4 linked regions of the Homo sapiens genome follow. The protein of the gene in region 1 interacts with the protein of each later gene in a biochemical or structural test. Each region holds a gene or a part of one and is shown on either strand. Other genes may lie near its edges.

Evidence for each region.
Region 2: the proteins of CRYAB (region 1) and CS form a complex in vitro, tested with the Homo sapiens proteins (3 studies listed by BioGRID).
Region 3: the proteins of CRYAB (region 1) and SNCA form a complex in vitro, tested with the Homo sapiens proteins (4 studies listed by BioGRID, with this or other methods).
Region 4: of the proteins of CRYAB (region 1) and CCND1, one has a biochemical effect on the other in vitro, tested with the Homo sapiens proteins (2 studies listed by BioGRID, with this or other methods).

The regions. Positions count from the first base shown.
Region 1 is NC_000011.10:111,908,760-111,916,616, forward strand, and holds the start of CRYAB (alpha-crystallin B chain), read right to left. Parts: upstream 3,012-7,857; 5' UTR 2,966-3,011; coding exon 2,765-2,965; intron 1,995-2,764; exon of another isoform or gene 1,691-1,994; coding exon 1,568-1,690; intron 209-1,567; coding exon 5-208; 3' UTR 1-4. Other genes in the region: HSPB2 (heat shock protein beta-2), read left to right, coding at 4,071-4,164, 4,682-5,136. UniProt on the Homo sapiens protein: May contribute to the transparency and refractive index of the lens. Has chaperone-like activity, preventing aggregation of various proteins under a wide range of stress conditions.
Region 2 is NC_000012.12:56,271,199-56,276,358, forward strand, and holds the end of CS (citrate synthase, mitochondrial precursor), read right to left. Parts: intron 4,998-5,160; coding exon 4,798-4,997; intron 3,934-4,797; coding exon 3,804-3,933; intron 3,681-3,803; coding exon 3,579-3,680; intron 2,599-3,578; coding exon 2,389-2,598; intron 2,057-2,388; coding exon 1,886-2,056; 3' UTR 501-1,885; downstream 1-500. UniProt on the Homo sapiens protein: Key enzyme of the Krebs tricarboxylic acid cycle which catalyzes the synthesis of citrate from acetyl coenzyme A and oxaloacetate.
Region 3 is NC_000004.12:89,820,162-89,827,189, forward strand, and holds part of SNCA (alpha-synuclein), read right to left. Parts: intron 2,228-7,028; coding exon 2,085-2,227; intron 1-2,084. UniProt on the Homo sapiens protein: Neuronal protein that plays several roles in synaptic activity such as regulation of synaptic vesicle trafficking and subsequent neurotransmitter release.
Region 4 is NC_000011.10:69,644,134-69,651,161, forward strand, and holds part of CCND1 (G1/S-specific cyclin-D1), read left to right. Parts: intron 1-3,860; coding exon 3,861-4,009; intron 4,010-6,984; coding exon 6,985-7,028. UniProt on the Homo sapiens protein: Regulatory component of the cyclin D1-CDK4 (DC) complex that phosphorylates and inhibits members of the retinoblastoma (RB) protein family including RB1 and regulates the cell-cycle during G(1)/S transition.

The sequences.
Region 1 (7,857 bases):
GCATCTATTTCTTGGGGGCTGCGGTGACAGCAGGCTTCTCTTCACGGGTGATGGGAATGGTGCGCTCAGGGCCAGAGACCTGTTTCCTTGGTCCATTCACAGTGAGGACCCCATCAGATGACAGGGATGAAGTAATGGTGAGAGGGTCTACATCAGCTGGGATCCGGTATTTCCTGTGGAACTCCCTGGAGATGAAACCATGTTCATCCTAACCCAAAAGAATGAGGAAAGAGGCAGAGAGATAAGAACAGGAACTATTATCACCTGCCCAGAACTCAGGCATCCTGATTTCCCCTTAGGTGAGACCAAATGCCATGACAACATAGGAAAAATAAATAGAGCTTCGTTTCAGGGTTGCAGCTAAGATGAAATTGCCTAGGTAGTCACTCCTACCAGTGAGAATCTGAGAAGTCTGAAACAGTCCAACACTTCATTGTTTTTCAAACCCTGAGGCATAGATATGTTTAGGGGTATTTCCCAAAGGTTTAGATCAATGTTGGCTGGGCCTACAGAATTTGGAATCTCATTTAGAATCTGAGTCCCTGAGGAAGCCCTGAAATTGTCCTGACTCTTCAGGAATGTCCCAGAAGGTTCCAGAACAATAGGACTGCTGCTGAAATTAAAAAAAAAAAAAAATGACTCCATCCAAGGAGACTATGACCCAAACCTAAATCATATAAGCAAAATTGAAACAGCCTGAGGACATTACTGAGGACAAACTGTACTGGTTGACGCACAGGTTCTGAGCTATCGTTAAATGGTGAGAAGCAATTTTAAAGCCCTCTTATAAAGTCATAACAAGCTGTTCCATTTGTCAGAACTCCCCCAAAGAGTAGATGACCTTAACCCGTATGCCTGCTGACTCTCAAGCATGTAGCCAAACAGGCTCTCGTTAACTGATTACCACATGGGCTGTAGGGGATTAAAGACTGAGCACAGCTCTGAAATTTAGACAAACCAAGTAGTTCAGCATTAAGATGGGCTAAAGAAGAGACACGGATTCTTGCACAGCTAAAAGAGAAGTCACAACTCAAGTGCTTTTAGGGTACCTGTAGTTAATGTAATTATGCAAAGCAACTAGGTGTCTGACAGCCCTATACCTAATCAGTGGTTCTCAACCTTGACTGTAGATTAGAATTACCTTAAAAATTGCTGATGCCTGGGTCCCACCCTTAAAAATGCTGATTTAATTGGTCTGGAGTAGTGCTCGCTTCGGCAGCACATATGCTAATTGGTCTGGAGTATGCCCGAGCATTAGGTTTTTTGAAAGTTCCCCTGGTGATTCTAATGTGGCCCAGATTCAGAACCACTGGCTTAAATGGGGCATCAGCATCCCATCATCCCATCTAAGGCGATCAAATCAAAGGCCACATCTCTGGCCATAATAGTAACAACAGCAATATGTCTATCCTAACTTAGTCTTCTAGACATTGATTTGTAACCCCTGATCCCGACTGTTATGGCTTGGGACTGGAATGTAGCCAGCCTCCAAAGCTGATAGCACTACCTGGACTATTACAGTATGCACTGAATGAATGAGCAGAAAACAAAAAAACAAGCTACATACCTGGCGCTCTTCATGTTTTCCATGCACCTCAATCACATCTCCCAACACCTTAACTTTGAGTTCCTCTGGGGAGAAGTGCTTCACATCCAGGTTGACAGAGAACCTGTCCTTCTCCAGGCGCATCTAGAAATAGCAAGGTAAGGGAATGGGATGGGAGAAAGAGGGCAAAAATACTGATTACACAGGTGCTGTCTTATTCTGCAGAGCTGCTTTCTGTCCGGGTAATTCATCCTTCTCTTCTCTGCTTAAAAAATCTCCTTTTTAAATAAACATAGCTGTCTGCTTCAGGGAGCCACCACAGTGATACCTAAGGCTCATGGTGATCAGACCCAAACTTTATTTACAGGGACAGAGAAGAAGACAGATCACCCAGGGGACCAGTCGCAAGGATGGGTGCAAGCCTGGCATCTGCTGCCTCTCTGACTCCAATGCCTGGCTTTGTGGTTTGTCTGTGAGACAAAGGCCTCTTCTTCTGGCTCAGGTCTCTTTGCCAGTTTTCCACCCACCCAATCTGGAATGTTCTGCTGGTCCTGCTTGTCCTTCCAAAGCCCTTGCCCACTCAGCTCCTGTTTACTCACACTTGAATATTTTTAAACCAGAGTGTTATCTGTGACAGCTCTGTCAACCTTATTTGTTCACCCTGTTCTTCCACCCTCTTAGGACAAATGGGCGTCCCTATATTGTTTCCTCGTAGGGCTTGATTGGACCCAGGCCAGCGCCCTGTCGTAGCCCTGAGAAACCCAGAAAATCATAGAAGAGGGAATAGAAAGGCAGAAAATACCCATGGGGATGAACAGCTCAGGATGAGGCAGGGCTCTCTCCTGGCTCTGAAACCTGAGATGGTAAAATCGGTCAAGAGTCCAAGGTGTTGGAAGAGATAAGCAAAGGAGTTTGAAGGCAGCTCTTTCCCTGCAGATTGTCATGAACCAAACCAGAAAGGGGTATCCTGTAGAGAAGTTAGGGGACGGAGGATAAACTTGACAGTGCATGAAAAAATGTAATAAATGGGATACAGAGGACTATCAAATAGAAACAGGTGATGGGGGAGGAAGGCACTAGCAACCTCCTCATTTTTCTTCACATTTGGACACACATGTGCCTAAAATGGTTTAGGCAGGGTAGGAAAGGAAAATGGATGGAGAAGTTTCCAGGAGGTTCCAGTAAGGACTCTCCCGTCCTAGCTGTGGGGAGACTCACCTCTGAGAGTCCAGTGTCAAACCAGCTGGGTGCCCGCAGGAAGGAGGGTGGCCGAAGGTAGAAGGGACTCAGGGAAGTAGACGTCGGGAAAAGATCAGACTCCAACAGGTGCTCTCCGAAGAACTGGTCAAAGAGGCGGCTGGGGGAGTGGAAAGGAAAGAAGGGGCGGCGGATCCAGGGGTGGTGGATGGCGATGTCCATGGTGGCTAGGTGAGTGTGAGGGGTCAGCTGGCTGGTCAGCTCCTTCAGCTGCAGCTACAGCCAGCCCCTTATATATGCAGTCTTGTGAAGCTTCTGGAATGGTGATGTCAGGGGTTTTATTATCCTAGCTCACCAGCAGTTCATGGAGACTTGTGATCCGGGATTTGGCAATGTGACACATACCCAGTACTCACTGAGCTAAGAAAAGAGAGACACAAACACGTCTGAGCCGGCCAGTGACTTGTCATGGTCTTGTTTCACTAGCTTTCTGTCCACACCCAATGGCACCCACCCCCACCCCTGTTCTCTGAAGCTGGTACAGAGTCAGGAATCCCAAGCAGGCACGCGGGGTGGGGGGAGGATGGGAGCCGGCGTAGTGTGCCCCTCCTCCTCCTTTCCAGTCCTGAATGCCAGGGGAATCAGGCCAGCAACTATCTTGGGCCTGGGCAGGGACTGGAATCTTCCTAGGCTGAGCCCCAGGGACATTAACTCTTTGTGAGTCCTTGGAAGAGAGCAGTGATGGTCAACATGTCAGCACCAGCCATCTGCCTCGTGCCCTGGGTTGACCTGGGTTTAGGAGAGGATCCCACATCTGGGCAGAAAGACCCCACCCCCTGAAAAAAGAGCAAACAGATTTCTTGCATCTTTCGTTCTATGTGGCTCTCAGAACATTAAATCCAGGAGTGCTTTAGGAATTGGGTGCACAGTGCCTGCCACCGAAGAGGAGAAAATGAGGTGTGGAAACGTGCAAACCGTTTGTGAGGGTCTCAGCGAGGCCTCTTCATGCCCCAGGCACCACCAGCTCCCCCTCCCCAGCTCGTTCCCAGCCAGGACCCTCAGCTGTCCTCTCAGGCCCCCTGCGACAGCTGAAGAGTGTGCGGGGGAGGGGACTAGGGGTCCGGGCGGCGCTGGTCACACCCTCGTTGCTCTCACTCAGGGCCCCCACTCCCAGCCCCTCCCCCCCCAAGAGGCTCGGCACTATTTTGGGTGGTGTCGACCCCGCCCCCACCTCCTATCGAGCCCTGGCTCTCCGGGCAGCTGGAGGGGTCGCGCTGCGCCTGTTGGGGCTGCACCTCGGACCAGGGCTTCTGCTGCATCTGCAGCCATGTCGGGCCGCTCAGTGCCACATGCCCACCCGGCCACCGCCGAGTACGAATTTGCCAACCCGAGCCGCCTGGGTGAGCAGCGCTTCGGAGAAGGTATGGCACAGACACCACCCCCTTGCCCCCCACCCCCACCCCCTGAAATTCTGGGCTGACCTCCCAACGTTGCTGGCCTCCACCCCACTCTGGGCTTAACTGATCTCCTGGGACCAGCCACCCCCCACCCCAGACTACCCCTCATCCCCTCCAAGCAGAGATCTTTCCCATTCCTGCTGACCTCAAGACACACTTGGTGCTTGCAGTGCTGATACCTGCTCTTTGCCGGCCTGGGTGTGCCTCCTTGTCCCCCTTCTATCCACCCAGGCCGTTTGGTGCCTCCTCCTCCTCCCCCTCCTCCTCCTTCTCCTCCTCCTCCTCCCTTTCCTTTCCGTTCTCTTTCCCCTCTTCCGAGCTGCCTTCTCCTCCTAGCTACAGTGTGGCCTCCCTCCCGTTCCCTACTCCTCCTGACTCCCCTCTTGCTCTTCCCAATCCCTCCTCTCCAGATTTCCCATTTCGCCCCTGTGCCAGCCTCATCCTCCCTCATCCTGCCTCTTGCCTTCTCTCTGCCCTTTAGGCCTCCTGCCAGAAGAGATCCTGACCCCCACACTCTACCATGGCTACTATGTCCGGCCTCGGGCCGCCCCAGCTGGGGAGGGCAGCAGGGCAGGGGCCTCCGAGCTTAGGCTCAGTGAGGGCAAGTTCCAGGCATTTCTGGATGTGAGCCACTTTACCCCAGACGAGGTGACTGTGAGGACTGTGGATAACCTGCTGGAGGTGTCTGCCCGGCACCCCCAGCGCCTGGACCGCCACGGCTTCGTGTCCCGAGAGTTCTGCCGCACCTATGTCCTGCCTGCTGATGTCGACCCCTGGCGAGTCCGAGCTGCTCTCTCCCATGATGGCATCTTAAACCTGGAAGCACCTCGGGGTGGCCGACATTTGGACACAGAGGTCAATGAGGTCTACATCTCCCTGCTCCCTGCGCCTCCTGATCCAGAGGAAGAGGAGGAGGCAGCCATAGTTGAGCCCTGATTGCCACAGACCCAGCACCCAGCAAATCCCTCTCTACCTCCCAAGGTGATATGGGCAGCTGCCCACCACTCCAGAGGTAGCAGCATCCTTGGGGGAAGGGAAAGGTGCATGGTCCACAATGTATGGTTTGGTCCCATGGGACATGTCATAGCCTTGGTTTAGTTTTGGGTGGAGCTGAATAAACCCAAATCTCAGGGCCTTGTTTGTACTGCTCCCTATTCTGTGGCCGGGAAGCTGGGATGGGGAGGGAGGGAGGAGGTCACAGCCAGCTAGACAAAAAGCTCCTCAGTTTGATGTGCCCAACGTCATAGGACCCTGAGCTCGCACTTGGATGCTGAGATCACACCCGGAAGCTGACTCTGGCTCCAGATCAAATTCCTAGCCATAATTTTCTCACAATGCAACAAAAGAGAGAGTGATCCTGGGAGGGAAAAGGGATATGCCATCCAAACAGCCCAGAGGGCACTGTCTGAGCTGGTGATTAGAGACACAAAAACAAGGGTCTCCAGACTGTCTGGCCCTTTTTGGGTAGGGGCTGGGAAAATGGTTTTTGGCTGGTGAGAGTTGCCTAAAGTCCTGGAGTGAATACTTTGTTTTCATGTACTAAGGTCTGTCCACTTAAATGGTCACTGATTTTGAGAGCCTGAGTATGCATACACAGGGCACAGACACAAAGCCTCTCCAATTATCACGGAACCCCATTACCTTCCCATCCTCTGGGGGTACGGTGTATTCAGGAAAGCCTGAGGTCTGTCCCCTCAGTTATTCTCTGCAATCAAGAGAACATCCAGCTACATGATTTGGGGGAAGTGTCCAAAAGACCTTCCTGCCTCCAAATACATATTTCATTAGGCTGTGGTAGATACCTACAATTCTTCCATTAAAGCAGTTGTTTCTTGGCTGGGTGCAGCAGCTCACACCTGTAATCCCAGTACTTTGGGAGGCCGAGGCAGGAGGATCACTTGAGCCCAAGAGTAAGAGACCAGCCTGGGCAATAGAGTGCAACCTTGTCTCTACAAAAAAATAAAAATTAGCCAGGCATGGTGGTGCATGCCTGTAGTCCCAGCTACTTGGGAGGCTGAGGTGGGAGGATGAGCTAGGGAGGTTGAAGCTGCAGTGAGCTGAGATTGCGCCACTGCACTCCAGCCTGGGTGACAGAGTGAGACCCTGCCTCAAAAAAATTAAATTGAATTGAATTAAATTAAGTGGTTGTTTCTTAACTTTTGGGAGTTATAGACCCTTCTGAAAATCTGACAAAAGCTATAGCTGCTCTTACCAGAAAAATACATATGCTCCCAAATTTGGCAATACAATTTGAATAGGTTCCCACAACTCTTAAGACCCATTCACATACCCCCCTTAGGGATCTGTGGACCTCCAGGATAACAGAACTCACTTGAGGAATTCGACTTTTGGTTAAAAGATTGCTGTCTATTAAAAATGAAAGCATGCCCCAGAGAAATAACATTTGACATATTTAACTGTTCATTCATTCATTCAGTAAATATTTATCAAACCTCATGTAATACACCTTGGGGGATATACATTGTAAATATAAATTATAAAAACTATTAGCTTTTATTGTCAACTTTCCAGAATCTAGTTGAGAAGAAAAATAATAAGAAAAGGATTCTACTTAGACTTCAACCAAAATAGCTTCACATTGATATGTTTTGTAACTGAGCTTTATTTAAAGGAAAGGGTTTCCTAGCTATAAGAAATTTGAAAACTTCTGATTTAGTCCAAATCCCCTCTCCATTCAAATGCTTTTAAAGTTATTAATCAACTTATTCGGGGACATTCTGAATAACAGACAACTTAGAACTTCTCACGGTAGTCGTTTCCATGTTCTTTCTTTTCTTTTTTAGACAGGGTCTTGTTCTGTTGCTCAGGATGGAGTGCAGTGGCATGATCATGGCTCACTGCAGCCTCAACCTCCCTTGCTCAAGCAATCCTCCTGCCTCAGCCTCCTGAGTAGCTGGGACTACAGGTGTGTGCCACCACGCCTGGCTAATTTTTTACTTTTTCTGGAGATGAGGTCTCGCCTTGTTGTCCAGGCTGGTCTTGAACTCCTGGACTCAAGCAATCCTCTATCCTTGGTCTGCCACAGTACTGGGATTACAGGTGTGAGCCTCTGTACCTGGCCTTCCATTTTCTTTTTGGTCTTAACTGACTTAACCGTTATAAATTCCTCCTTTTGTTGAATCAAAATCTGCATTTCAGTAACTTCTCTGGAAAACAAACACAATGGTTTTTTCACTGAAAATCCTTCTGATATTTAAAGATAACCATCCTGTCTTCCTGAGGCTTCCCTTTCCCAGCTAAACATGCCTAGTTCTTTTTTTTTTTTTTAAGACAAAGTCTCTCTCTGTCACCGAGGCTGGGTGTACAGTGGTGTCATCTCCCCTCACTGCAACCTCCTCCTCCTGGGCTCAAGCAATCCTCCCACCTCAACCTCCTGAGTAACTGAGGCTACAGGCATGCGCCACAACACCTGGCTAATTTTTTGTAGAGACTGGGTTTCGCCATGTTGTCCAGGCTAGTCTTGAACTTCTGGCCTCAAGCAATCTGCCCACCTCGGCCTCCCAACACATTGGGGTTACAGGCGTGAGCCACCACACCCAGCCATGCCTTGTTCTTTCAACCATATCATACAGCACTTTCCACATCACATATTACCCAGATAACTTTATTTTGAACATACTGCCTTTTGACAACGTA
Region 2 (5,160 bases), on another chromosome or scaffold:
TGGTCTTGGACCTCCCATATATGTGATGCCCTCAGGACCACCTCTTGTTATTTTTGGGACCTCCTTCAGGGAAGCTATAAAGAGCAGGCACTCCAAGAAGTACCAGAGCCCTCTAGTGGCTCTGGTCCTGAGGTAGCAGTACTAGCCCATTCGTCCTTGGTAGTTTGTTCCTTTCTCTCAGTGGGCTAGACCAGTTCTTGGATTAGTCACATAAGCAATTGAGAATCTCAGCTATAGCCCTTGAGTATGTTACCTTACAACAAAATTAGCAAGGTTAGGGGCTAAACATCAAGGACTTCCTAACCTTGAGGAAGGACAGAAATCTCCTCTGGAAATTTCTCAGGGAGGCTTTCCTCTGGTTAAGGTAAAAGAAAGCCAAACCTGCCTAAAGATAAATGGATACAGATTACTTATAACCCACTAAGTTCAGGATCTTGCTAGCCAGATTCCTTACCTCATAATAAAGGTTCTTCCAGGCCTTATTTAATAATAGGCTCAAGCATTGTTAATAAAAACATTTATTTTGCATTTTATACAGAACAACCTGAAGTCTCCATCATGACTTGACAGTTACCCAGGGGTTTACAGTGTGTCCAACTCAACAGTGTGGTTCTGGGACTGGGTATCCACACAAACACAGGCAGGAGTTTGGAGGAAAGATGGGGGCACAGCAGGAGTGTATCTTAATCCTTTCTCAAAGAAAAAGAAGTAGAGCATTCTGAGTTGCTGAAAACCTGTGCAAATGGGGCTTCTGAAACATTGTACTGTGAGCTCTCAGGGAAAGGGAGGAAAAAGATGTTGATAAATAAGGAGGCAATTTCTTGAGGCAGGGGACGAGGAGGGAGGCTTACTATTTTTAATGCCCTCAGCCCCAGTACCTGATAATCAGAGGAGACCATGTCCAATCTTGAATCAATTCCCTGTTCAAAAAGAGGTGCTAATACCCCGGGGACAAGACTCTGAAAATATCATGCTGGTCATTCCGGAGTTCTATGCCCCACAGCATATTAAAAGATGGGGGTTGGTGGGGGGTGGGGAGGTCAGAAGGTAGTGGCTTGTATTCTGTGGAAGTAAAAAACTTAGTTCACATTAAGCACTGATAAAACCCAATGACTGGGCCCACAGATCTGTTGAGAGGTCTCTAGTAGGGACCAAGAGGGGGAGGTCCAGAACATCCTCTGCCTGAGGTGCAACAGGTGTAGAAAGTCTGGGAGGAGGTGAGTATTAAAGTAATGGGAAACAGAACACTCCCAGACCTTAATTTTAATTGGATAGTTTTAAAAAAAAAATCAAACATTGGGTGCCAGTCACAACAAATGCCATGCCTTTATGGTCACTTGGTAGTATAAAAAAATTGCCAAAGCATGTCCAGCTAACCAACAGGTCTTGCTAGGAGGTGTTTGTGTGCATGGGAGAGGGCCAAGGGGCTTGGTACAGCTGACTATCCAACATGATTCCTATGGAAACAGAAGGGGCAGAGTCCTGGTTTGCTGGCTTATTGAGGGCTTGGCAGAGAAGCTAAAGCTCCAAAGTGACTACAGATTCTCTGCAACCGGCTTTGACCCATGGAAACAGGAGCCAGATTCTCACTCTAGAGATAGTGAGGGGGCCAAACCTACTCATACCACATGCATTAGTCCTGGTCATCCTCCAGGACCATGCGTATGATGGGCAACTCATACCAGGCAGGGGAAGGGAGCTGATTAGGGAAGAAGGGACCATTTTTCATCTTTTAAAGTCTTAATTTATATTTTAACCTCAAACATATTATCAGTGCCTCAGATATAATTTAATCTTAAGTCTTTAAAGGCCCCCTGAAACAAAAGTATACTTTTTATTTAGGCTTCCTCACTTTCTGGTAGTCACTTTCACCCAGTCTCCAGTTTTACCCTGACTTAGAGTCCACAAACTTCATCAGACCCTCTGTGCTCATGGACTTGGGCCTTTCTAGAGGGAAGCCTAAGGCTCGGCTCCAGATGAGCTGTGCCAGTACACCCAATGCTCGTGACACCCCAAACAGGACCGTGTAGTAATTCATCTCCGTCATGCCATAATACTGTAAGGTAGAAGAGAAAAATATTTCATTTAAGGCAGAGGCAGTGGCATGTACAAGTCCTAGGTGATAGAAACCTTAAAAGCTAAATTTTCCATTTTTCTCCAAGGACTTAGCCCAGTCAACCTTAAATAGAAATGACACTGAGAAAAGTATAGCAATTGGGATTCTGAAAACAGAGCAACCCCAACCCCCAACCCTCTCATAGTCAACTTTATCAAAATGCTCTGTGAGGGAAGTCCCTGCTCTGACTAGGAGTTAATTGACTTTGTGCATGGCAGATAACAATAGGGTTTGGTACAAATTAGAGGGAAAAGAGGGAAAGGAGGACTTACCTGGAGCAGCACCCCACTGTGAGCATCTACATTGGGCCAAGGATTCTTGGCTTTACCCTGCTCTAAGAGGACATTGGGCACAATCTTGTACAGCTGAGCAACCAACTTAAACATGGGGTCATTAGGCAGGTGTTTCAGAGCAAACTCTCGCTGACAGGTATATCGCGGATCAGTCTTCCTTAGTACTGCATGGCCATAGCCTGGAACAACCTGTAAAGAGTGAGGAAAAAAGATAGTATTCTCAGTAGAAATTCTTTTATTTTTCGAGACAGGATCTCACTCTGTCACCCAGGCTGGAGTGCAGTGGCATGATCACATCTCACGGCAGCCTCGACCTCCCAGGCTCAGGCAATTCTCCCACTTCAGCCTCCAGAGTAGCTGGGACCACAGGTGCACACCAACACATCTGGCTTTTTTTTTTTTTTTTTTGGTAAAGATGGGGTCTGGCCGTGTGCGGTGGCTCATGCCTGTAATCCCAGCACTTTGGGAGGCTGAGGTGGGCAGATCACCTGAGGTTGGGAGTCCTAGACTAGCCTGACCAACTGACCAACTCGGAGAAACCCCGTCTCTACTAAAAATACAAAATTAGCCGGGCATGGTGGCGCATGCCTGTAATCCCAGCTACTCGAGAGGATGAGGCAGGAGAATCACTTGAACCCGAGAGGCGGAGGTTGCAGTGAACTGAGGTTGCGCCACTGCATTCTAGCCTGGGCAACAAGAGCAAGACTGTCTTTAAAAAAAAAAAAAAAAAAAAGATAGGGTCTGTGTTGCTCAGGCTGGTCTCAAACTCCTGGGCTCACGAGATCCATCCACCCTGGACTCCCAAAGTGCTAAGATTATAAGCGTGAGCCACCACACTCAACCTATTTAAAACTGTTTTTTAGAGAATGGGGTCTTGCTGTGTTGTCCTGGCTGGAGTGTAGTGGCTATTCACAGGAGTGATCTTAGCACACTGCAGCCTTAAACTCCTGGCCTCAAGCAATCCTCTTGCCTCAGCCTCCCAAGTAGGTGGGACTACAGGTGCATGCCATTGTGCCCACCTAGAAATTCTTTTCTAAATTCTTCAAGGTAGATAAATGAAGAAAAAAAAATCTCTAATTTAGGGACCTCTTTCATTCTTTTCTTAATTCTTCCAAATTGCAGAACTTGTGTCTTGGTTTCTTTCCTAGTCGTTAAGCATCTCTGCTTACCCGTCCTGAGTTGAGTGTGTTCCAGATGTAGTCTCGTAACTTCTCATCTGACACATCTTTGCCAACTTCCTTCTGCAGCTGTGTTAGCCAGACAAGCACTTCCTATGGGTAAGGTTTGGGGAAAAAGGGAATGTTAATACATATGCCAGAAGAGAATGCCAAGATCAGAAACAAAGCATGGGGTAAGGAAAACATGTAGCAGGAAAATAAAAAGAATAGTCTTACCTGATTTGCCAGTCCATGGAGAGGCCCTGCCAGCCCGTTCATGGCTGCTGCAAAGGACAGGTAAGGGTCGGAAAGGGCACTGCCCACCAAATGGCTGGTATGGGCACTTACATTGCCACCCTCATGGTCACTGTGGGGAAGTAAGAAGGGAGAGCCAAGGGAAGAAAGAAGGGGCAGATTATGGAAACTTTGCTGTTCTCTTATTTGCCACTTACTAGCCTAGTTATGGGCTCATGCCAGCCTATAGCCAGTCAGTTATACCTAAACTCTTGTAAAAGACATCCTAATCTTGGCCAGGCACAGTGGCTCACGCCTATAATCCTAGCACTTTGGGAGGCCAAGGCGGGTGGATCATGAGGTCAAGAGATCAAGACCATCCTGGCCAACATGGTGAAACCCCGTCTCTGCTAAAAATACAAAAATTAGCTGGGCATGGTGGCACACATCTGTAGTCCTAGCTACTTGGGAGGCTGAGGCAGCAGAATCACTTGAACCTGGAGGTGCAGGTTGCAGTGAGCCAAGATTGCGCCATTGCACTCCAACCTGGCGACAGAGCAAGACTCCATCTAAAAAAAAAAAAAAAAAAAAGCATCCTAATCTCATTACCAGCTTTTGTTCACTCATCCACAGAGCTGGAGAGGTTACTGGTTGATGATGCCTGTATGCTCTGCTCCATGACTCCAACCTAGCTTTAATAGCAATGGCCCCAAAGAGCGAGCTCCTGGAAAGCTGAAGGACCATCTAATGTGAGCAGCTAGTACCTTTTCCCAGCCAGAAGCACCATCTTGTTCTTAGCATGGTTACAGTAATTTCTTTAGGCCTCCTGACCTTGCTTACTAGACCCCTTTCTTGCCTTGGATCATCCTTTATGCCACGTTTCTGTCTTCTTGCTGCCTATCATCTGTTCTCAGAAGATGAGAACATAAAGGAGCTTTTAAAAAAATTTCCCACCAATTGAGGCACCTAGTGGCTGTGGTTGCTGGGTCTAGCTTACCTGTGGATGGTGAGGTACAGGCGCGTGAGCTCAGTGAACTGATGATCAGTATAGCCTAACATGTTGGTGAAATTGTGAGACCAGTCCAGGTTAGAGTCAATGGCCCCAATACCGCTGCCTTCTCTGTAGAGATTTCGGTAGATCTTTGCTGCAACACAAGGTAGCTTTGCGATTAGATCCATAGAGTCTTCATAAATCAACTGACAGAAGAGGAGCAAGATGGAGAAAAAAAAAGGAATTATCAGCAAAGAAGAATTAGGCAGGGATATCGTCTGTCCTCCATGAATTGGGGCTATTTGGGTTGATGGTTAGTTATATGATGGGTTGTTATATATTGAGTATGTTTGAAAGTAGAGAATAACA
Region 3 (7,028 bases), on another chromosome or scaffold:
GTTTTGAGGAAGTGCTTGGGGAAGTGATATAGTGGCTGGAAAAGTACTACTGGTGTCCAGTCTATTCCAAATGACTGTGCAATCTTGGACTACCCACTTCCTCTGTAGATTTCTGTTTCCTCATCTCTACAATCAGAAGATTGATCTGAACAGAGGGTCTGTCAATGGACTTCCCATTAAGCTCTTTGATGTGCGTATGTGAGTGCGCATTTTTCTGAAGCTAAGAGGGTCTATAGCTTCTATTAGCCCGTGAAAAGGGTCGGAGACACAAAACTGATTAATTGCCTGTGTACTAATTTAATCTGAGGTCCCTCTTAACTTGTGAAATCTTACGAAGCTATAAATAGAATTAAAATTTTAGATGGAAACCAGGAATTAATATAATTATTATCCCTAATAAGATTATTTGAAAAGCATATTTTGTACAAAGGGGTACCACCATGACCAACCATGCATTCAAACATTAGCTGAAGAACTTCACTAGAAGCCCAGTAAGGATTTGCCATCATTAGCATCCATTGCACCAGACACTAGACATGTAAGTACATGTAGTAAATCTAAATATATCACAGATATTTTTGTTCTGCCTTTTTATTATCAGAGTTTTAATGGGCTATCAAGGTAAGGCTGCTACTTAGGATTACATGAAGTGGAAACAACCCAGAATAGTTTGCCAGCAAATAAAACTTCTTTCTCACAATTTTCAAGATATTCATCCAAAATCATTTTGATTGTAACTTTTGGATAGCTGAATAGCACTGTTCTTATACTAAGCATATGATTATAAAAGACCCAGAAATGAAAGTTGTTGTGCTTACTCACTTCCTTCCCTCCTTAATTTAATAAATGTTTGTTAATTGTCTACTGTAAGTTGGAAACTCTCCCAGACACTTGTGAAATATCAATGAACAAAATAAATATATTTCACTCTCATGGTGCCTACATTCTAGAAGGGAGAAATAAAATAAAAATCATACATTAAAGTAAGCACATTATGTATTATATTTAAAGGTGAATAACACTTTGGCAAAGAAAGGAAAAAGAAAGAAAAGGAAAGAAGGAAGGAAGGAAGCAAGAAAGAAAAAAGAGAAAGAAAGAAAGGGAGGAAGGAAGGGAGGGAGAGAGGGAGGAAGGAAGGAAGGGAGAAAGGAAGGAAGGAAGGGAAAAGAAAGAAAGGAAAGAGAGAAAGAAGGAAAGAAAGAAAGAAAAAGAAAAAGAAAGAAAGAAGGAAAAAAAGTAGGGAGACTGGGAATACCAGAGGTGAGAAGAATGGCTCCAATTTTATATAGATTAGGGCAGGCCTCCCCAAGAACGTGTCAGGGCAAGGGTATGCTTGATTTATTCAAGAAATAGCAAGGAGGTCATTGTGGCAGGGAAAAAGCAAAAATTATTTTGCTGTTGTAGTGGTGATGTTTGTGAAACTTCAACGTTGTTGACACCTCATACTGTATTAGTTCCATATTTAAAATGAAAGTTATAATATCTTTGGTATAATCTTATTCGTGTCCCATGTTTGTCAAAAAAATTCAGTCAAAATTCTTCTCAGAATTTTAAAATCTACCTCAAAACTATATCTCTGGTTGGTATGTATTTTAAGTCTCTCATTTCCCACAAATATGTATTTGGCAATGAACTGTTATGTAATATGCAGATATGCCATTTAATAAGAGATGATGTCACTATAAAGAAATAAGTAAAAGAACTTTATTTTGGAAATTAGGAAATTAGGCACAAAGGGATTTGTTACTCCAAGGAAGAGAAATTCCAAGACTTACAATTAACATGAAAGCCCTCATTCTTTCTGAAATGTCACTGTTCCTTTGGCATTTTACTACATTTTTTGTTTCATTAACTTTCTTCCAGAAATTGAAACAATCATAATAATTATAAAATTTGCATGGCATTTATCTGGGTTAATGCCTGAAACAAGCAAGACCAATATAAAGGTAGCACTTTTTCACAAGGGGAGGGTCAGGTAGCCGTTCCCCACAGTAAGTATCTTGCTCCTGCCTCCAGGCCTCACATGAAAATGAACCGTAATCTCACCAGCTTATAAATGTAACACAAAACGTACACAGCCATACCTTGCCCAACTGGTCCTTTTTGACAAAGCCAGTGGCTGCTGCAATGCTCCCTGCTCCCTCCACTGTCTTCTGGGCTACTGCTGTCACACCCGTCACCACTGCTCCTCCAACATTTGTCACTTGCTCTTTGGTCTTCTCAGCCACTGGTACAAATAAAGAGCAACAACAGATTAAAGGGTGGTAGAATAACAGTGACTTAAAATCATTCCACTTCCACTAGCCATCGGCTTCCATACACCTGTATCTACACATGCCATAGATAACTGAGTGGTCAGAAGAAACAAAAGCCACCAAGATGTCCAAGTGAGTGTGGTTCAACCAAACATTGAATCTTGGCTAAGATATTTTGGCTAAAGTCATGCAGTATTAAAAAGTGCTTCAAGTTTAACGATCAGGAATGTAAAGCCATGAGTGATTTGGATTTGGTTTATACTATGGAAAGTTTACAGAAAGCAATTCTTACAGGTGCAGTTATATTTGAACCAGACTCAGCATGAATATTTCTTTATTTCAATTCAGTGCCAATCCTTTGATCTCACTCAGCAAGTTAATTTCCACCACACCTTCTAAGCAACACAATACATACTTCTATTTATTTATTTATTTGAGATGGAGTTTCATTCTTGTTGTTCAGGCTGGAATGCAATGGCACAATCTCAGCTCACAGCAACCTCCGCCTCCTGAGTTCAAGCTATTCTCCTGCCTCAGTCTCCCGAGTAGCTGGGATTACAGGTGCCCACAACCACACCTGGCTAATTATTATTATTATTATTATTTGTATTTTTAGTAGAAACAGGGTTTCATCATGTTGGCCAGGCCGGTCTCGAACTCCTAACCTCAGGTGATCCACCCGCCTTAGCCTCCCAAAGTGCTAGGATTATAGGCATGATCCACCGCACCCAGCCCCTACTTATTATCTACGTGTTCAGACGTGGTATTATCACATATGTACGAATAACAGCATAAGAAACGGTTGTGAAGGAACTTGGATCTTTTTATAGAACTTCAGGTAGTGAAACAAAGGGTTCTTAAAAAGCTAAATTTGCAGTAATTTTAATAGGAGCACAGGAGCTAGACAGTATGAAAATGAAGAGGCTATTGAGCACCCTTACAATTTCTTTTCATAAAACAAAATGAGATACGGTCATTCAGTAGATTTATTAAAATAAGTTAACATTTTTGAGAAGACAGTGTAAATAGTTTGAATTGAGTTTACAAGCAGAAGTTTAATTTCATGTCAAAAACTTTCTTGTTCAGTTAAATAAGCCAGAAACAGAAAGGCAAACAACCACATGATCTCACTCATGTGGAATCTAAAGAAAAAGAAAAGTTGATATCATAGAAGCAGAGAGGAGAACAGTGGAGGAGAGTGGAGGATGGGGACACTCATCTAAGGAAATGAAGGCACATTTTCTTGACATGCTTTGTACTCCCCAGATAAGCCTCAGTCTGAGAGGAGTTACACCATGTCAGCTGTTTAGTGCTATTCACATGACTATTGTATAGGTTTCATCTCACCAGTTGAAGAAGCCAATATTTACTTATTTATTTATTTATTTATTTATTTTGAGACGGAGTCTTGCTCTGTCACCCAGGCTGGAGTGCAGTGGCACGATGTCGGCTCACTGCAAACTCCGACTCCCGGGTTCAGGCCATTCTCCTGCCTCAGCCTCCCCAGCAGCTGGGACTACAGGTGCGCGCCACCACACCCGGCTAATTTTTTTATATTTTTAGTAGAGACAGGGTTTCACCGTGTTAGCCAGGATGGTCTCGATCTCCTGACCTCGTGATCTGCCCGCCTCAGCCTCCCAAAGTGCTGGGATAACAGGCGTGAGCCACCGCGCCTGGCCTGAAGCCAATATTTAAATGGTGTGGACAAAGCAATTTGTTTTCAAATAGACTATGTAAGCTAAGGGGGTCTGTAAGGACAAGAGGCTTTCTCCTTAGTACAGGCAATGTGGGCAAGCCTGACATAGCCACACAGCCCAAGACCAGAAACGGTCCACAGTAGTGTTGCTCCCTATTTGTCTTTTAGGCTAGAATTTTGTACAACTACCTAACAACTCCGTGCCACTTCTAAGGATATGGCTGATGTCTCCTTAAGAGCAAGAGCTATTTACAATTCAAAGTTCGATTTAAATGCCAGCGAAAAGCTGTACTGAAAATCTTATGTTTTAAAACATTTCTGAAATGTTGATCCTTTAAAAATAGTCAATTATGTGTTTCAAGTTGTCATTTTTTTCCTTTTCAAGGACGTGAATTGAAAATTTTGCTTGAAACGAACATTTTCTTGTTATAAAATCTCAAAGCGAGATTAAAAATAGGTTTTGAATTTTTTACAGATCCAGCCATAAATTTTATAATATCTAGATAGCCTTTTATATATGTATAAATTTTAATCTAGTTTTAATGCAATACACTGCACAGTAAAATGTACTCTACACATTATTATAATTTTGTTGTTTTATTATTATAATCATAAATAAAATGGCTACATTACAAAATGACAGAGTGTACATGTAGCAATAATCGACACATTTAAAAACATTTCTGTAGAACTGATTTCTCTAGTAGGGTCTCTGCTGACCTTTAACCTCTATTTTTCCCCTTGAGGGCCTTTCACACTATCTCTCTACTCACTGACATTCCAAATGACGGGTGACAAAACAAAAGGAAAAGAGACACACTCATATTAGTACATTTTGGGTCTAATAAATGGTAACTGTTTTTCGGCAATTGAGTTCTTTGAAATCAGGGATTCTGCTTTATTTTTCTTTATATTATTTCATAGTAGATAATAAATAATTTAGAATATACTAAAATGAATTTAGTGTCTACCTCTAATGTCTGCATTAATATAAATAATAGGTTTATATTTGACTTTAGCTACTTTAAAAATAAAATTCCAAAAAGGAAATGTGATACCAACTTTTAGAATAGATATAGCCAAATCTAACCTTTGACATTAAACAAAATTATAAAATTAATATATGGTTTTGAATTGTTATACAAGTAAATATGTATATTTAAATATACATATGTAAATATGGATTTAAAGAAAATAAATTTGAAACAATTTACTAAGGAAATTTAAATCATAATATGTTGAAAATTAGTTTTGTTCATTATGATGTAATAAATTTATAAGAATCAAAACCTTCAGAAAATCTCCAGTGTTAGAAATTTCTTTATACTATACTTGCATGAAAAATAGGTAACTTTATATCATAGTTTATTTTTAAAGTACCTGAAAAAACATATCATTCAGTAAGTTTAATTAAACACATTTTCATATATTTCTATAATATGATGCATTAAGTTGATAACTGAAATAATTTCCTGAGATCAAACAGCCAGGATTTAAGTTGGTGGATTTTTCATTGATATTATCTAACTAGGATAATTTATTTTATTTGAACTTTGTAGGTAGAAAGTTCCCAGCCCAAGTTTACTGAAGTCTGTATTTCTCCCCTGCCCCACCGAAAAAAAAAAAGCTAATGGGATGAATTTAGGGGAAATTGTTTCTTTAATATTAGAAGATAATATTAGGTACTATGTAATAATTTCTTGTTTCCCTGCATTAAGACTTGTAGCAAGAACAATTAACAATTAGTTAGCACTTAATATGTACCCATAATAAACATTTTACATCAGGCATAATATGCAAATTATTCTCCCTCTCTTTAACCATTGAAGTGTAATTATCTTATTTCTTCTCATAATTAGACTTAAGCACTTTATATTAAATAACCCTATTCAAAAAGTTAATTCATTTATCTGATGTGGGAGAGGAATGATTATGATAGCAGCCGATTTATCCCAATGTGTTTCTCATAGCCATACTAGTTATGACAGCATTTTTGGTTATTTCACTACTGCCAGGGTGGTCCATGGGTGCAATCGCTGTAAATATTGCACATGCTGAAATCACCATGTCCTTACTGCCTAGCAACATTTCCCATAGTTTTCTGTGGAACACTAGTTTCATTCAACCCTAGTAACTAATGAAGAAAGTTTTCAATAATCAAAAAGTTTGAATAACCCTGATTTTAACTATGTAATGCAAATTTCTTTACTGTAGGACATCTCAGATTCCTTAATACGCTAAAGAGAAAATAAAGTATACAAAGTCTCCCAACATTGTACAATGTTAGAAACTTAAGATTGTGAGCCACTGTCCTTCAGAAAACATTTTATAAAATGTCTAATTGTACAAACTTCAGTCTCTCTCTCTCTCTCACACACACGCACACACACACACACACACACACACACACAGATATGTGTTTACATTTTGGCATTCTGGAAAAGACTAAAAAAATGCAGCCCATCTCCACAGTCTCCATTAGATCATCAGGTGACAGTAATAGTTGGGTTCTTTAATTTTTACCACTGACTCCAGAACTTGCCACATGCTTGTCTGCTTTCTAAACCTCATGGGTTCTTCCTCAACTACTAAATGGAACACCATTCATCTAGGTTGACCGTCTTCAGATAGTGGAGTCTCCACCTGTCTGTTATCTAGTTCTTATTATAATCATGCTTCACAATATCATATTTATAGGAGGTCCCTAGAAGGCATCATAGTCCACTTACTTAACTACTTCTCTGTTGGATTGCAACAGAGCCCATTAAAGGTGCACAATTAACTTCTAACAGAACTAGTTTCAAAGGAGTCTGTTTTATTTTTACACTCTGATTTTTAAATCAAAAGTATTCATTTAAAGAAATATTTTTCTCCACTAGTTGTAAAAATGTTGCACAAGAAAGTTCACTATAAAACTATAAGTAACACTTATAAAATACATATTGTTTGCTTTTGTTTTCCAGATGTTTTGTGTACATTAATTCACTGAATTATTTTATAGATGAGGAAGCTAAATCACACAGAGGTGAAGAATCTTGCAAAAAACACACAGCTGGTAAGGAGTAAGCAGGAAGTTG
Region 4 (7,028 bases), about 42 Mb from region 1:
TCTGGTGAGCAGAGGCCCTGGATTGTTTGTCGCGCTGGATGGAGGGAGATTTGCTCCCTCACGGCCACCATGCAGTACCTTGGGCATTGGTGTGGACGGCTCAGCCTGCCTGTGTCCCGTTACTCTGGCCTCGTCCTTCAGGCCAGGCAGCCTGTGGCCACTCCATGCTGAAAGGGGTTTACCTTGGCCACAGGGCCGCCTCCTTTCTCCACCCACCTCCAGCCCTTCTTGTGTCCTTAAGGAGCCTGAGCTGCAGAGGCCCCCTCCTGGCCTCTCCCAGGCTGGGCCACCTGCCAGAGGCGCCTCCAGGGGCGGGGAGAGCTGTCGGCCTGCCTGCACCACGTGCTCTGGGCAGCCGAGTGCAGGGGTGTCCAGCAGAGGAGCTCGGCTGCCTGAGGCCCTGCCAGGGGTGCCGGCAGCCAGCCGGGCTCAGCTGAGCCCTGAGGGGGCGCTTCAGAGCACTCTCAGCTTGGGCCGCCACCGTGGGCAGCAGAAGCACCCAGTCCTCACTTCCCCTGGCATGGCCCCAGAGGCCCCTCCCTGACATGGCCTTGGCCCCAGAACCCAGTGGGGACAGACTCGCACATACACAGGGTGCCGCCTCCTGCTGTCCCCAGCCCTGCCTCTGACCCCCCTGTGACCGCCTCCTTCCCTGGCCCAGGAGGCCTGGTTACCTTCATGGGGGAGCATGGCCCCATCCCACCCAGCTCTGCTGTGGCCCACCTTTGGTCAAGCCTCAGTTGTCACATCTGTTTGGGGGCTCACTCTGGGTGACCTAGGCCACAAGGCCCACGGGGCATCAAAGAGGCAGTAGCATCTTCTCCCCTCCCCAGAGGGCAGAGCCCCCCAAGCCTACTTCAGAGCTCCCTTCTGACACCGGTAGCCCGCAGCCGGTATTCCAGAATGGGTTCTGGTTTAGGCGTGAGGCCTCCCCCACCTCCTCCACCTGCTTGGGGCATGAACCCCTCCCCCACGTTTCCAAGCGAGTCCCCAAGGTGGGCAGATGAAGATGCCAAGGATGTCGACCAGTCTGGATGGGTCTGGGGTGGGGGGGCATGCGGCAGACAGGGAGGCATTCTCTGGCTGGTGCTCCTCAGAGGAGAGAGGCCTCCGGAGACTCCAGACAGCCTTTTATGGAGCTGAAAGTGGCTTCAGAGAAATGCAAAGTTTCCTGGAGAGAACGTGGGGCGTGGTTCTTGCACAGCCTCCCTACAGGGTGGCTCCAGCAGTGGAGCTCCCCTCCCAGGACCCCTGGGTGCTAGTGGGAGGCAGTGGGCAGGTGCAGATTCTCGTCCTTCCCACTACTGCACACCCTTTGTCTGCGAAGGCGCCCCCAGCGGTGGGTGAAGGAGGAGGGACACTTGGGGACCCAGCTGTGCACGTGCTCTCAGTGACTGTGGAGTCCACTCCAGGGTGGGTCCCGAGGGAGGGGCAGGAGACCAGGGGACCCACCCCTGCAAAGTGCTCCGGGTCCTGACCCGTGGCCACCCCATGGAACGTAACTGAGCAGCCAGTGCCTTGTTCCTGCTGGACATCTGTGGAGACAAGAGTGACTTACGGCTGCTTAAAGTCAGAAACAGGTTGAAGGAGGTGGAGGCGTGGGAAAGAGTCTAGGAAGGTGTTTTTGCCCTCCACGTGGCAAAGGTTACATTTAAAGGTGATGCTGGGTGTTCTCCCTGCACTAGGCATTCCTGGCCCCAGGTCCCCAGCAGGTGTGCACATGCTGCATACACTCACGCATGGGGGTTTCAGGGCAGGTGCGCCCTTGGCTCCGTGGGAGGCCAGGTGAGGAACGTCCAGTGCCAAGGAGCTTCCGGGACAGCTGTCACTTCCCTTTACAACCAGGCAGCGGATAGGGTCAAATCCTGGAGCTTTGGTGTCTAATTCTGGGTGGCTCCTAATCTAAGCACAGACAGCACCACACACTGGGGTGGGGGCACGAGCTTCTGAAACAACGTGGCCCCAGTGACTCCACGCTGTGTGTGCCCCTGGAGACGGGGGGGTGCACAAGGTGCGGAGCCAGCTAGAACCTGTCGCTCCCTGCAGAAGCGGTTTCTGTGTGCGGTTCTGATTTGCCTCAATGAGAAGGTTTTCATTCATGGCTCCCGGCTCTCAGACTGGGTGGAACTGCTCCCATTTAAAGGGGAAAAGAGGTGGCTCGGCTCGTTAAGGATTTCTTTTTCTAAGTTGTTACGGCGCCCAGCAGCCGGCTTTGTCTCCCCTTCAGGGTGGCTGCCTTTCTTCCCGGCCCCTCGCCGGCGGCCCTCTCTTTAACAAGGCCGAAGTTGTTTATTCTCTCGGGATGAAGTCTCGGATGGGCCGCCACACCCCTGGCGGCCCGTGGGGGCCCCTCTCCCTTTGTGCCTGGGTCGGCTCCCATTCAGCTCCCCCGACCCCCCTTGTTCCCGGGCGCTCAGTGGCGCGAGATGAGGCGATGGGGCCGACAAAGATGCCACACTCATCCCTGCCGACGTCCGGCTCCCAGCCCAGGGCCCCTGGTTCCTGTGCAGAATTCCTCGTGGGTGTGACAAAAGGCTGCCCCCAGGCTCCGCTGGGGTGGGGGCCAGGCCAAGAGGCACATCCCACACTGGCCCACCTGTCCACGGTAGGCGCATGACTGCCCTGAGGAGGGGAGGCCGGCATTCCCCGCCACAAACCAGGACGTAATTGGTGGCAGGGCTCTCTGTGGAAAGAGCCAGTCTGCTGTTTGTCTAGGAGGTCAGTCACAGAGGCCCCGAGACGCCCACTACTGCAGCCTGGCAGGCGGATGAGCCCAGTATCTGGCAGTGACCAGAGGGAGTTTTGTGCAGACCACAAAGGCTGATGGGCCGCCCTAGATTGGTGTCCCTCTTGGAAGTGGGCCCAGATGTGCGGGACAGTCCCCAGGAAGCCCCAGGTGAGGGCACTGGTGCCCTCTTGGGAAAGCTGCTCCCTCCTGGGGCCCGGCTCCCGGCCCAGTCCTCCAGGGGTGTCCCATGGTGACTGGTGCTAGGAACCCCACACCTCTTCCCTTACTTGGGAAGTCACTGGAATTGTTGGGCTACATCAGACGGCCCAGAAAAGTGTTTTTGTCATCGGCCAGAAATAGGAGAGTTGTGAGTAGAGGGCCCGGGTGGAGTTGGGGTGTACTTGGTCTGTGCTCTGAAGGTCACTGTGACAGTCATGGTCCCATGGTAAGGGGCATGGGTTGCTGGAAGAGCTCTTCCTTCCCGAGTGAGCCAAGCCGGGCTCTCCTGGCGCCAGGGCCTGAGCCGCAGCCACACCACAGCCGCCCTGAAGGCTGCCGGCCAGGGCTTACCCCTCAAGGGACACGGAATGGCTTCATCAGTACCCTGCAGCCCCGTGGCCTGGCCCGGGTGGAGGCCTAGGCTTCAGCCATGCGATGTCCCTTCAGAATATGACTTGTCTGCAATCCCTGCTGCTGGGGGGTGGCAGGTACTTGGGGTGAGGGTTAGGGTCATAGAAGCGACATCTCTACGTCCTCATATTTGCGTCATCTAATTTTGTTTTTGTGAATACGTGATAACATTCACAAGGCTCAAGATGCTAAAAGGATGAGAAGGCAGTGATGTCCCCATCACCTGTCCTGTGTCTTCCCGTGGCTTTCTCTTTCCTTGGTTATGTTTGAGTCAACAGTGGGGCTGACGTTCCAGGAGGGTCCGTGGGCCAGGCTCTTGCTCTCCGAGTGCCCAGGGATGGCTGGAGGCTGAGGAGGGCCTGGATGTGGAGCCTCAGATACCGAGTGCTTCCCTTCAGGCCGGGCCGCTTGCTCAGAGCCAGCACACAGGGATGCCCGGATCACGGGGGCCCTGAGAGGGTCCCCTGCTCACAGCCTCCTTCCCTCTCTCCTTCTGCCTCAGATGTGAAGTTCATTTCCAATCCGCCCTCCATGGTGGCAGCGGGGAGCGTGGTGGCCGCAGTGCAAGGCCTGAACCTGAGGAGCCCCAACAACTTCCTGTCCTACTACCGCCTCACACGCTTCCTCTCCAGAGTGATCAAGTGTGACCCGGTAAGTGAGGGTGATGTCCCAGGCAGCCTTGCCGGGGCTTACAGGGGGAGACACCTAGTGCCACGGAAATGCCGAGGCTGGTGCCAAGGCCCCCAAGGGTGACAAGGTTGGGGCTGGGGCTGGGCCCCTCGGACCCCAGGCCACAGACTGACAGGGCACCGGCTTCTTCCACTGCTCCTAGAACTTACTGACTGGCTGGGAGGTCCTCACAGCCTTCTCACGTCCCCTGGGGCTTCCAGGAGCCGTAGAGTTTCTGGGCGAAGCGTCCGGGACGGAGGCCCCAGGCGGCCCCAGCCAATGGTCTGTGTGGTGATGGTGTGTGGGGTTAGGCCCAGGCGAGCTTTGTTTGGGCCACAATGTGCGTGGCCAATAAATAGATGCTTGAAAAGGGCTCCTGTGAGGTCCGAGACACCGGACAACGGGCGGATAGAGACAGCCTTGTTGTTTACGGCCTCTTTGAGAGGCTGCTGCTGTTAAACCCTGGGATGACTGTGTCTTTCTTCTTAAAAATGCCATTGTTTTATTCCCGAGTCTTTTCTTAAAGAAAGAATTAAAATGACAATCAAAAGGGTTTGTGGCATTTACCAAATTAGACCAGAGAGGTGGCCGGGTCAGCCGCCGGCCCCGCGGTGTGTGAGGGAGTGACCGCCTGACCCCAGCTTGGGGCTGGGTGGGCCTGCAAGACCCGTTTTGGCTCTGGCCTGGGCCGCCTCTTGGTGGTCTGCCCTCGAGCCTCCCGGGGACTCCGCACGGGTCTCAGCAGATGCTATCTAGGGTCCACCTGCCTGTCCCCTGCCTAGTGGTGCCTCTGTCCCGGGGACACTGGGAGTAGCGGCTGCCCAGCCCATGTGTGTCTCGGAAGAGGAAGAAGCTTTTTTGCCGTGGGACACCGAAGTTGGCAGGGGCCTCCCTTCTGTGTTCTCGGCCATGGCCTCCCTTGCACCCTGCCCCGTGTTATCCTTTGGGGGTGGTGAGGTGTCCTCACCCGCTGTAGGGTGGAGGCCAGCAGCCCGCAGCTCTCTCAGGAAAATGGCTCAGAAACACCATCGAGGCCTCCAGAAGCCCAGCAAAGAGAAAGCCCCTCCATCAAAATGAAACTCGCGTCTGCACTTTTCATTTCGAACTCCACGCCCTGAGTGAAAACCGCTTCCCCGCCAGGGGTGACTGCCCTGGGATGTTGCTGTCTTCGGGCAGTTGTGGGAAGTTGGGCGCTGGCCCTTATTTGAGTAGAGACCATCTTAACTAGATTGGAGGCACACGTCTCACAGCTGACAGACACACGGGGTGAAGTTACCCGAGGCGGAGTCCACTCTGCCTGATCAGCTAGTGACCAACGTAGCTGAGCCCAGACTCAGAAAAACCGTCCACAGCAGAGGCCCCTGCATTTTCTAGGGCGTGTTCTAGAATTTTCTTTGGTGGGTGGAATGTCCATCTGTGCAAATCGGGTGCGCAGTGCCACACACCAGTGACTTTTCGCGGAGGAGCGTGCTGCCTTTTTGGAGCTTCTGGCTGTGGGAGAACAGCTTTGTCCACCGGGGTAGCCTTGCAGGCAGCTGTGGGGCCAGAGGAATGAAGGAAGGTCCTGGAGTCTAGCTGCATGTGTGACCCTGGAGTGGGTCATGGGCGAGGGACGGGCCGCAGGTGAAGAATCCCTGGATGGAGCTGCCAGGCCCCTGGGGCTGAGAATTGAAGCTGGCTGGTGTTTTAGGTTGAACGTCAGGAGTCTTGTATCTCACCCCAGGCCTCTGGCCTCAGTTTCCCCATCTGTACAGTGGGACTGTTTGTGCAGCCAGCCCGGCCAGCTTCATTTGCCATGATGAGAATTTATCTGAGGGGCGGGAGAGGAAAGCCCTCCCTATAAAGGTACAGGCGCTAAAATGTCGTGACCTCAGTGGTCCACCTAAAAGTCGTTCTGGCCTGGGTCATCGCCTGTCGTGCTATGCCTTTGTCCAGCCCCTTCTGGTTGGGAGTTAAGTGGCACCTGTGCGGCACGTGGTGGGGCTGTGGCCCAGCCCTGCTCCTTGTGGAAGGTCTGTTTCCTGGGCTGCCTAGAGACTTGGCTTGAAGCCCTAGCGTGGCTTCCTGGCAGTTGGGACACACACAGCCCCAACACATGGAGCCGGTTCTCCATCCAGAAGCCCCCGGGCAGTAAGCAGCCACTTCAGGCTGCGTGGGACTTGCCCGTGGTGGAGCCTAGGAGAGGCCCCTGGCTGGGCGTGGCGTTCCAGATTTCACGGCTGCTCTTTCCCACTGACAGTGTGGTGTGGACGCTGCCAAGGGAGTCTGGAGCCCCAGAGGGTGGAGGTGCAGGACTTCCAGGAGCGTCCGTCGCACTCCACCCGAGGGCGAGCACCTCAGTGGCCGCAGTGGGTGGATGCATGCTGTGCCAGGCTGATGGCTGGCCCCGGGGCACAGGCCTGAGCGGGAGAGGATGGAGGGGAGGGATCAATGGTCCAGGTCCCCCTGGCCACCCAGCATTCATCCTCAGTCATGCACGGCCCAAGGCTTCGACAGCCATTGATCATGGAAGGCCAGGTTCACCTCAAGGGCTGCCACATGGAGAGGTTAAGTCTGAAAAGGCTGAAAAGGCAGGGTTCAAAGGGCCTCCTGTCCAGATCAGATGGCACTGAATTCCCCAGGGAGCTGGCACGGCCAGTGGGAACAGGCGGTGAAGGCGCTGTTGGACATGGGGACGGGCAGGGGGTGTGCAGGGTGGGCGGGCAAGCATCTGGTGTCTTGTGGCTCCAGAGACCAGGTGGGAGGTGGAGGCATTTGGTCCTGAGTGTCCTGACAGGTGATGGCAGCTCCCACATCTCGCTCAGGTTCAGAGGAGGCAGCATGGGCCGAGGGACAGTTTTTGGCTTAGTCTTGCTCTTATAAAGGCTTCCGGGTCATGGCACCTGGGAAGGGGCCCTCGCTGCAGGCCCCTTCTAAGGACCCCCTCTTCCCACCTCTCCCCACCCTCTCTCTCTCAGGACTGCCTCCGGGCCTGCCAGGAGCAGATCGAAGCCCTGCTGGA